Linked DNA regions of Homo sapiens: region 2 is linked to region 1. Evidence: fine-mapped expression QTL. A gene starts in region 1. The other region holds a variant in brackets. All regions are shown on one strand. Distances are between the middles of the regions. Region 1 holds the start of KCNG4 (potassium voltage-gated channel modifier subfamily G member 4). Region 2 overlaps KCNG4 (potassium voltage-gated channel modifier subfamily G member 4).

Region 1 (5,371 bases):
TTAAAGCTTCTACATTGGTGTTATTTATTACTGCAGCCATAAGAAGCTCACACGTAGTCACTATGGCTCATCCCTTGATCAGAAAAATGTGGCAGAAGACATCTGGGTGGGGCATTTCTACGTATGCCTCGAGTTCCAGGCTTCCAGGACGCCAGGAGGATGGGAGATGGGTTACTGGCCCTGATTAGCTGAGGTCAAGTGTCCATACCCGGGAGGGACACTGGGTACAAGAAGACAGTAGCACTAAGCCAAAAGGTGGCTGGGACTTCACAAAGACCTGAAGAAGGGCTTAGTGGATGCCCTGGGGAAAGGGCTGACGGGACTGAACACCAGGCTGAGGGAAAAGTCCTACAACCTGGGCAAAGTGTATTGACAGAAGGCACTGAGCTGTGGAAAGAGCACTGGACTGTGAGTCCACACTGAGCCTGGCAGTGCCATCCACTGGCTGGGAGGGCTCAGGCAGGGCTCTCCCCTTCACTGGGTCTGAGTTCCTCTATAGGTAAAATGAGGGACCTGCACTAGGTCAGTAAATCAAGCCTTCTTTTAGAAAAGTTTTTGAACAGCAGACTCCTGTATTTACCTAAATCTTTCTTGGGTAATTTGGGGAAAAAAAATTGCTAAGATGGTAATCATAGCCGGGCACGGTAGCTCACACCTGTAATCCCAGCACTTTGGGAGGCAGAGGCAGGTGGATCACTTGAAGCCAGGAGATCAAGACCAGCCTGGCCAACATGGGGAAACCCTGTCTTTACTAAAAAAACAAAAATTAGCTGGGTATGGTGGCAGGTGCCTGTAATCCCAGCTACTCAGGAGGCTGAGGATCAAGAATTGCTCGAACCCGGAGACGGAGGCTCCAGTGAACCAAGATCTTGCCACTTCACTCCAGCCTGGGCAACAGAGCGAGACTCCATCTCAAAAAAAAAAAAAAAAAAAAAAAAGATAATCATAATAATAGCAAGCATTTGAATAGATAGGACTCACTTTTGTGACAGGCAGTCTTCTAAGAGCCTTATCAATGTAAATTGATTTGTTCAAAACTCACAACAAATCGATAGATGCTGTCATCTTCAGGTCACAGACAAAAAAATTTAAGGCACAGAGAGGTTAAGAAATTTGCTCAAGGTCACCCAGCAGGGAATTGGTAAATTCTTGATTTGAACCCATATACTCAGGATCCAGAGAGAACTGAGAGGAATGGGGATAAGTTAGGGGAGATTTAACCAGAAAGGCTAAATCCAGACAAATAAGAAACAGCTGAGAGAGGTGGGGAGACAGCTGGGGTAGGAGGAGGAATCATGAGCTGGAAAGACAATTCTGAAGACTCTTCTAAGAGCACCATTGGAGCAGCTGTGGGGTCTGAGGAACACGGGAGTCAGTGGAAGGAGGGAAGGAAACTTCTCCATTACTGGCAGGTGCTCTGGGATCTCTTTGAGTGGCTCTGTGTGGACACTGGACCATGCTGGGCCACAGCCTTTATTGGGGTTACACTTACAGTCTTATGGAGACAGATCAGAGTGCAGCTGCCATGGCTGAGGTAGCAGGTCCAGGGGTTCATCCTCCCCGTTGTCACTGCCCCAGGCCAGGCCCCTCAATCATTTCTGCAGAGCCCTAAGGCTTCAAGCAATACCATTTGAAAACCGCAATACCAGATGGACCTCCATTCAGTCAGTTCTCTTCTCTGCTTGGATTCGTTCCCATTGCCAAGGCCACAGAGAGCCCACCTAGGTCAGCAGCACCTGTCATCCCCTTGCAGGCAGCTGTGGAAGGCTCACCCTCTAATCTCCCTCACTCCTGGATCCTCCCATCAAAACTCAAGCGTCTGTTAAGTGATGGTTCTTTTTTTTTTTTTTTTTTTTTGAGACAGAGTCTCACTTTGTCACCCAGGCTGGAGTGTAGTGGCGCGACCTCAGCTCACTGCAACCTCCGCCTCCCGGATTCAAGCAATTCTCCTGCCTCAGCCTCCCGAGTAGCTGGGATTACAGGCACCCGCCACCATGCCCAGCTAATTTTTGTATTTTTAGTAGAGACAGGGTTTCAGTACGTTGGCCAGGCTGGTCTCAAACTCCTGACCTTGTGATCTGCCCGCCTCCGCCTCCAAAGTTCTGGGATGACAGCTGTGAGCCACCACACCCGGCCTAAGTGATGGTTCTAACCAGCAAGATGACCTTGAGCAAGCCTCTTCTCAGGGCCTCAACTATCAAATGCAGTGAAGATAACACATTCAGAAGCCAAGAGCCTGGGCTGCAAAACCTCTTAAGAAAGTGAAGAACAGTCAACGTGTAGTGAGCAACTACAAGATGCTGGTTTTACAATTGCAGCCATCGCTGGTTTCACTGTCCTCATTTGACTGAGAAACCCAAGGCCCAGAGAGGGGAAGTGACTGACCAAGAACACACAGCCAGGCAGTGCAGAGTCCAAGTTCACACCCAGGCCCTGGACTGATGCCTCTTCCTTTTCACCCACCCAACCATCCAACCAGCACAGGAGCTTGCACTTATGGTTCTGACCTTCCCTGAACCCTCTCTCATTCCCATGTTTTAGAGACAAGACAATTGAGGCTCAGAAGCACTAACTCACCTGGCCAAGGTCACCCAGCCTTTCACATAGGAGCCAGGATCCAGGCATGTGTGTGAATTCCAAGCTCGGAGCTCTTCCTATTGCTGTTCTGTAACACAGCCCCCCTGACTCCCACCCAGCGCTCAGAGCCTGGGCTTCTGTCTGAACCTGTCCCAGGCCTGGGCTGCTTAAAAGCAGCAAAAAGTTCCTCCTGCAGCTTCAACTTGAGCCTGTCACCATCATCAGCATACCCCGAGAGACTCTGGGGTGCCTGGGACAGGTAGCTGCAGATGCCTCCGGCCCCAAGTTGCCCTCTGCTCCTCCCGAGTTGTGCTCCTCCATGCCAGAGGAGGGAGGACAGCTCCCCTTGCCTCCTAGGCGGTTGGCAGAGTGGCAGCGGCTGCTGCTTCTTCCTGCTGCTGGCTGATGGAGAGATTATTTCTAAGCCCTTCCCATTCCACACCCCCCCACACTGGCTGTCCCCGTGGGACTTGAAGTGCAGAGTCCGCTGCTCAACCAGGACAGCTGCCCTGGCTCCCTCCCAGCAAGAACCCCCAGACCCTCATCTCTCATAAGGAAAGGGACTTCTGGGTCCTTTAAAAAAAAAAAAAAATCCCACCTCAATCCCCCAGGGCTCTCCTGCAGCTGCTGGAGAGAGAGATGCAGAATGAATGAACTTCTGGTTTCTGGAGGAGGCACGGGAAGAAAGATTGGAAACTGACTCTGCTAGAAACTGCTGTTTTGGGGATTTTTTTCTTCCCCTTCATCTCCACCAGAAACCTGTCCCTTCCCTGGGCACCAAGAGATGGGCTCCCCTTGCCTGGCAGAGAAACAGCTGGAAACTGGCTCCCTGAGACAAGAAGGTGAGTTAAACTGGAGGGGAAGAGTTACTGCTTGCTGTAGGGTGGGCGGGGGCCAGGGGGAAGTTGACGCTGTTAGACATCCTTGGCAAAAGTGCTGGTTTGAGTGAATTCCTTTCCCGTGCTCCAGAAGGAGCTGTTTGCCAGCTGTTTGGAGAGCCGTAGATGGCAAAATTGGGTTTATTCAGTGAATGCAGAAAGGGCAGTTTTCAGGTTCTGGAAGGAGCCCCAGGCTGGGGGACAGAGTGCTGGGTTGGATTCGGATTTGCTGTGTGACCTTGGACAAGTTACTTCCGCTCGCTGGGTCTTGGTTTTTGCACTGGGAAAATGAGGAAGCTTGCAAAGGGCTCCCCAGATTTCAAAATACTCTTCTCTCTGCAGGCTCCTCATCCTCCTCTGGCCATTCCCTGTGAGCAAAGTAATGCATTCAGAGCAACAGAATGTTGTGTAGGGAGCAAGAGTGTGAAATAGGTTACGATTCACTCTCCACTATCCACCGGAATCCAACCGGCTCTGAAATTGAGAGGAACTTTGATTTCCGTTCCACTGCCGAGTTTTTCTCTTGATTGGAGTGGAGTGCATCTGAAAATGTAAGCTTATAGATGCTTTGGAAATGGCTTTGGCTAGAATGAATAGCATAAGAAATGGTTGCAGGATCTGAAGGTGAGAAATATTATGAAAAGGACTTTTTAAATATGTGAAGTGGCTAAATCTAAAACACTCACACTAAGTCAAGCACCTCATATAGGTCTGAAATGGAGACAGCATTAGAGGCCCCGTCATTTTTTTTTGTTTTTTTCTTTTTGAGATGGAGTCTCGCTCTGTTGTCCAGGCTGGAGTGCAATGGCGCAATCTCGGCTTACTGCAGCCTCCGCCTCCCGGGTTCAAGCGATTCTCCTGCCTCAGCCTCCCGAGTAGCTGGGACTACAGGTACATGCCACCTTGCCTAGCTAATTTTTGTATTTTTAGTAGATACAGGGTTTCATTGGCCAGGCTGGTCTCGAACTCCTGACCTCAGATGATCTGCCTGCCTCTGCCTCGCAAAGTGCTGGGATTACAGGCATGAACCACTGCGGCTGGAGGCCCCTTCATTCTGCACATAAAAGCCTGCGGGCCCAGAGAGGGGGAGTAACTGGCTGGAGGTCACACAGCAAGGATGGCTGAGGCAAGCACGCAACGAACATGGAGGAGTACTGTGATTGCAAGTACGCAATGCTCCTCCGTCCCCTTAGCAAAGGCCTCCCCAAATGGGGAAGCGACCAAGAGGGATTAAGCGAGACTGGTGGAGTTCCTCCTGAGACCTAGATGCTTGGATGCTCGCTAAGCATAGTCACATTCCTGGGCTACTCGAACCTTTAATAACAGACCCTCGCTGAACCTTCCTGATGTCAGGTGCTTGCTAAACAGTAGGCAAGACACGCAAACCTTCCGTGCGTCAGCCTCCTTATCTATAAAGTGGAGCTCTTATGTCTACTTCATGAGGTTGTTGAGGTGAGTTAGGGGAAGCCAGGCATGTCAGAAGCATCTAGAAGTATTATTAATACACACTTTCTTGTATATTACTGCATATAACCCTTGCCATGCCCTACGATGTGGGCACTCAGACTGCCCCAGTCATACAGATAAAGCAAAGGACTCAGAGACACTGAGTAACCCACCTGTGCTGGCAGTCTGTAAGGGATCGGTCCCTGCCAGTGAACCTGAGAGCCTACATTCTTAAGCTCTATTTTTACTACCTGTACCTTGCAAGATTAGTATGAGTCTTGTCATTTGAATGAATGATGCTGAGATCAGAGAGGTTAAGCCACATACCTGAGACCACAGAGCCCAGAAGTGGCACCGCTCCGACTTGTCCAGCTCAGGACTGAATTACTCAAGCCCCCATCCGTGCAACGTCTATTCTGGAGACATCCTTCTGAGATGTCGGTAGAGGTTCCACCAGGGAAGGGTTTTTT
Region 2 (5,348 bases), 23 kb after region 1:
TTTCCCGCTGTGTGCCAGGCATAGTCCTCCACTGATGGCAATGCCAGACAGCAGCGTGGCAGAGGGCTCTGGCCCAGGAAGCACCCTGCACCAGCACCTAGCGTCCAGGGAGCCTTGGCCTCCTGGCGAGCCTGCCTTTCCTTGGAGTCCTCCAGGTGTCCCCCCAACTATACAGGCACATGTCCCCATTCTTTTAGACCCCAATCTTTCCCAAGCTGACATGTCACCAGGTGACATAGTGGTTCAGTGGCCATGACACAAGGAAAGCCCCTTCACCCTATAAAATCCCCAGCCTGGATGGCCACTCCACTCCACAAAGTGACAGGCAGATTCCCATAAGCGTTGCGTAGAAATTCCATGTCACAGGCACCTTGGACAGTAGCCATAGAAGTGTTTCTGTTCCAGAGTAACATTTTATTTATTACTTATTTATTTATTTATTTATTGACAGAGTCTCTCTCTGTCCGCCAGGCTGGAGTGCAGTGGCTTGATCCCAGCTCACTGCAACCTCCGCCTCCTGGGTTCAAGCAATTCTCCTGCCTCAGCCTCCCAAATAGCGGGGATTACAGGCACCCACCACCTGTAATCCCAGCTATTTGGAGATCAAATGCTCAGCTAATTTGATATTTTTAGTAGAGACAAGGTTTCACCATGTGGACAGGCTGGTCTTGAACTCCTGATGTCAGGTGATCCGCCTGCCTCGGCCTCCCAAAGTGCTGGAATTACAGGCACGAGCCACCGCACCCGGCCCAGACTAACATTTTTTTTTTTTTTTTTTTTGAGACAGAGTCTCCCTCTGTCACCCAGGCTGGAGTGCAGTGGCTCAATCTCGGCTCACTGCAAGCTCCGCCTCCCAGGTTCACGCCATTCTCCTGCCTCAGCCTCCTGAGTAGCTGTGACTACAGGTGCCACCACCACGCCTGGATAATTTTTTGTATTTTTAGGAGAGACGGGGTTTCACCATGTTAGCCAGGATGGTCTCCATCTCCTGACCTCGTGATCCGCCCGCCTCGGCCTCCCAAAGTGCTGGGATTACAGGCGTGAGCCACCGTGCCCAAGCCTGACTAACATTTTAATAACTACGCTTAGGCAAAATAGTAAAAGGACAAAGTCTCCCACTTACTCTCTTTCTGGGGACTGACTGGCTTGGGCGCTGGCTGAAACCCAGTGTCTTCACTCCCTGTGTGACCTCGGGCAGGCCCCTTCCCCCTCAGTTAGCTGCAGGCAGGTGTTGGACTAGATCTGTGGTTTTCTGACCTGGGTTCCACAAAGCAAGCTCAGGGACTGTCCTGCGGATGAAGAAGACCAGCAGCAAAGCAGGCAGAGCTCTGCCTCCTGGGGCAAAACATTTGCAATTAATGACACTGAAAAGAATGTGCAAATCCCCAGTCTCCTCTCCTTCCCGTCAGTGTCCAGCCCAGCCCTTTGAACTGAGTGGTAAGCTCATTCTGGAACCAGAGACAAAGCCTAAACAGCCACTGGAAGGTCTGGGACCCACATCAGCCCCCACATCTGCCCTGCCTTCTCATCGAAGACATATTTTGTGCGCATGCCTGGTGAAAACTTCTTAATGACAGCTCTGCCCATCCCTGTAACTGGCTTCTACCCAGGCATATCCCTTCTCCTCTGCTTCACCTACCAGACCTCTTCACCAAAGTGTGCCAGCACTAAAAGAAACATTTAAAATCAAAATTAGGTGAAGCACCACCACCATTATGAGATTCTATAGTGTCTTAATGTTCACCCAGTTGAGATTCTCTGCTAAATTAGACATGGAAAATTGGAATTGATTGCTCGCATGTGGGGCTTAATTAAACGCTCTATTTTTTCTCCCTGGTAATGTCCCAGGAGACGGGTCTAAATTGTTTTAGTCTAGCGTTGCCGAACTGCCTTTCCTTCGTGCTGATTGAATGGGGTGGAAGTGACAAGCAAGTTACCAGGCAGTTTCTTCACCCCTGTTGGCTGAAAGGTCCCTTATG[T/C]TACCCAGAAGCTCTTGTTTTCTCTGAGGCCAGTGGGCATGACTATAGCCAAAGGTGGACATCTTCCAGCTGAAGGCAAAGAGAAAACGGCCCTTTACGGCGAGCCATTTTCGTGTTGTATTGTCGACGTGGTTGCCAGAGGTAACTGGGAAACTTTGACTCAGCGTGTCCTAGCCAGACAGAGTTGAGCCCAAGAAGTGAGACGGAGAAGGGTGAGTTAATTCTTCAATAGCATGAAAGGTATGCAAGACTGTACTGGGGACCCGTTGACTCTGTTTCGATGGTTTTAGGACTTTAGAATATGGTAACTGGAAGTCTCATTGGAAGACAGTCAATCCGAGCAGGGAGTTTCCACGAGGGACCTGTGCACCTCTGTAGATGACGTGCATGTCACAGTGCAAAGTGTCCAGTGATTCCATCGGATTCTCAAGGGAATCAATGACCCCTCCAGAAGGACAACAAATTCTTAAGTAAATCAACTCCCTCATTTTAAAATGGAGAGATGAAGCCCCGCACAGTGGCTCATGCCTGTAATCGCAACACTGTGGGAGGCCAAGGTGGACAGATCACTTGAGCCAAGGAGCGCAAGACCAGCCTGGGCAATATGGCAAAAGCAAGTCTCCACAAAAAATACAAACATTAGCAGGCTGTGGTGGCACGTGCCTGTAGTCCCAGCTACTCAGGAGGCTGAGGTGGGAGGATCACCTGAGCCTGGGAGGTCGAGGCTGCAGTGAGTTATGATGGCAGCACTGCACTCCAGCCTGGGCGATGGAGTTAGACCCAGTCTCAAAAAAAAAAAAAAAAAAAGATGGAGAGATTAAGGCTCAGAGAGGGAGGGCCACCAACCCAAAGGCCACACAGCCAGTTCATCTAGTTAGATCCAAGTATCTCAATTTCCAGCAGAACACTCTGTCATGCTGCTGCTCTTAGGCTCATGTAAAACAGCGTCCAAGTCCTCAAAGAAAAGATTGAAGATGAGATGGTAACAACACTTTGCCACGCTGTCCTGAGCAGATGTCTTCGGGTGTCCCACGTACTTTGTGTTACACAAAAGTTACACAAATCAGTTTTACCAGACTTTCATTTTCTCATTTATCCCAGGGAAAGTTTAGATGAGAGGATTAAAGCCCTTCCCAGTTTGGACAATCTATGACTCTGGGAAGTAGGGCTCATTGCCACAGTTGATACTACGGAGAGGGGCAGACAAGAACACGGAGAGAGGTGAGAAAGAAAAACAGACTCTGTCCCTTGACTATCCACAAAATTGCTCCCTTGGCAAAAATTGGCAAGTAGTCCAAGTTTGAATGTAAGTTCACTGAGATCTCTTTCCACTTCCCGCCCACCACATCAGGGCACCTCACCCACCATGAGGCCTCATTCTGGAAGCACCTGGCTAGCTGGCTACACACACTCAGTGGCCTGCCTTTCCCCAGCAGCATATTAAACTCCCTGCCTGCTCTTCCTCACAGTGACATGCTAATCCTGGGGATCACCTAATGAAAGATTACTAGTCACCAAGCAATTGATTTTTTAACATTTTACTTGGATAATATGTCAAACCCACAGAAAAGTTGCAAGAACAAAAATAGCGCATAAAACACCTCAACACCACTTTTTTTTGTTTGCTTGCTTTTGCATTTTGTCCATCTGCTTTCTTCTTTGCTCCATCTTTTTTTTTTTTTTTGAGATGGGAGTCTCGCTCTGTTGCCCAGGCTAGAGTGCAGTGGTGCCATCTCGGCTCACTGCAAGCTCCGCCTCCCGGGTTCAAGTGATTCTCGTGCCTCAGCCTCCCGAGTAGCTGGGACTACAGGTGCCCACAACCACGCCCGGCTAACTTTTTGTATTTTTAGTAGAGACAGGGTTTCACCGTGTTAGCCAGGATGGTCTCGATCTCCTGACCTCGTGATCTGCCCTCCTCGGCCTCCCAGAGTACTGGGATTACAGGCATGAGCCACCGCGCCTGGCCTGCTCCATCTATATTTTTGTCATATCTACATGGTATTGTTAATAATATGTTTATTGAACCATTTGAAAGTAAGTTCCCCACATCATGGCCCTCAGCTTTCTAGGTGCACCTTTATTTTTGATTAATTGATTTTTTTTTTTTTGAGACAGGATCTTGCTCTGTTGCCCAGGCTGGAGTGCAGTGGTGCAATCGTAACTCACTGCAGACTTGACCTCCTGGGCTGAAGCAATCCTCCCGCCTCAGCCTCCTGAGTAGCTGGGACCACAGGTATGCACCACCGTGCCTGGCTAATTTTTTTATTTTTTGTAGAAATGTGGTCTCACTATGTTGCCCAGGCTGACCTCAAACTTCTGGGCTCAAACAATCCTCCTGCCTCAACCTCCCAAAGTGTTGAGATTACAGGTATGAGCCCACCATGACCAGCCTAGATGTCACTTTAGAATGTGGTGACCAGAAGGCTTAGCAGAAGACTCTCAGCCCAAGGAGGCTTAGCTGGGAGTTTCCATGAGGTTCCAGAGGTCTATGAGCCTCTGGGGCTTAGGTGCACTTTGAAGTGTTAAGTGTCCAACAATTTCATCAGCTTCTCAAAGGAATCCTTGACTCCTCTCCCTGCCCCTGCAAAAGGGTAGGAAGCTCTAAAGTAAACCAGTTGCCTCATTTTAGGATGGAAAGCCCAAGGAGACCCTAAACACATCGGTGTATAGATACTTAGAAGAAGGAGATTCTTACAGAACCACAGTTCAGTTCTCAGCTTCAGCACAATTAACTTCCATGCACTACTTTAATCTAATCTACTGTCAGTTCCAATTTTGTCGGCTGACCTAACAATATCCTTTGTAGCATTTTTTCCTCCAGTACAGGGTCCAGCCTAGGATGGGATACACCAGATATATGTACGGATCCTATCTCTGTAGTCTCCTGTAATCTGGACCATTTCCCCAGCTTTTGACTTAGATGGCATTGAAATTATGAGTCAAATATATCATGCACACAAGGACGCTCATTTTGGGTTTGTCCGCTGTCTCCTGGTGCTTTGAGGCCATGCATTCCTGGCCAGGACATTACATAAGTGAGGCTGTGTCCCTCTCAGGGCATTGTGTCTGGGAGTGCCATGTCCTACGAGTCGTTTATTTAGGAGGTGAGCCCAGGAGTATTGGGGAAGTGACCCCAGGACATGCTCGCGGGGTAGTGGAGATTGAGAGAGGGGAGGAAAGGGGGACTGGGGGAGTGCCAGCCTGGCCTAACGACATTCAAATAAAAAATGAAATTAATGTGCCTGCCCCCACTCCAGCAGGCAGATAGAATGTGACAGCAGGCCAGGTATGTGCCAGCCATCCAGACCATCTCTGAGGAGGACAGCATGACAGCATGTCCCCCTTGCAGATGAACAAGTCCCCAAGGCT

Evidence for each region.
Region 2: its variant is fine-mapped to the expression of KCNG4 in cerebral cortex (GTEx, PIP above 0.99).

The regions. Positions count from the first base shown.
Region 1 is chr16:84,237,718-84,243,088 of GRCh38, reverse strand. KCNG4 (potassium voltage-gated channel modifier subfamily G member 4) reads left to right here and starts at 3,077. Exons shown (of 3, transcript NM_172347.3): 1 at 3,077-3,419.
Region 2 is chr16:84,215,159-84,220,506 of GRCh38, reverse strand. KCNG4 (potassium voltage-gated channel modifier subfamily G member 4) reads left to right here. Exons shown (of 3, transcript NM_172347.3): 3 at 1-1,850. Among named protein-coding and RNA genes, the nearest start is that of ADAD2-AS1, 21 kb to the right of the region's middle. The variant T/C (reference allele first, on the strand shown) is at 1,980.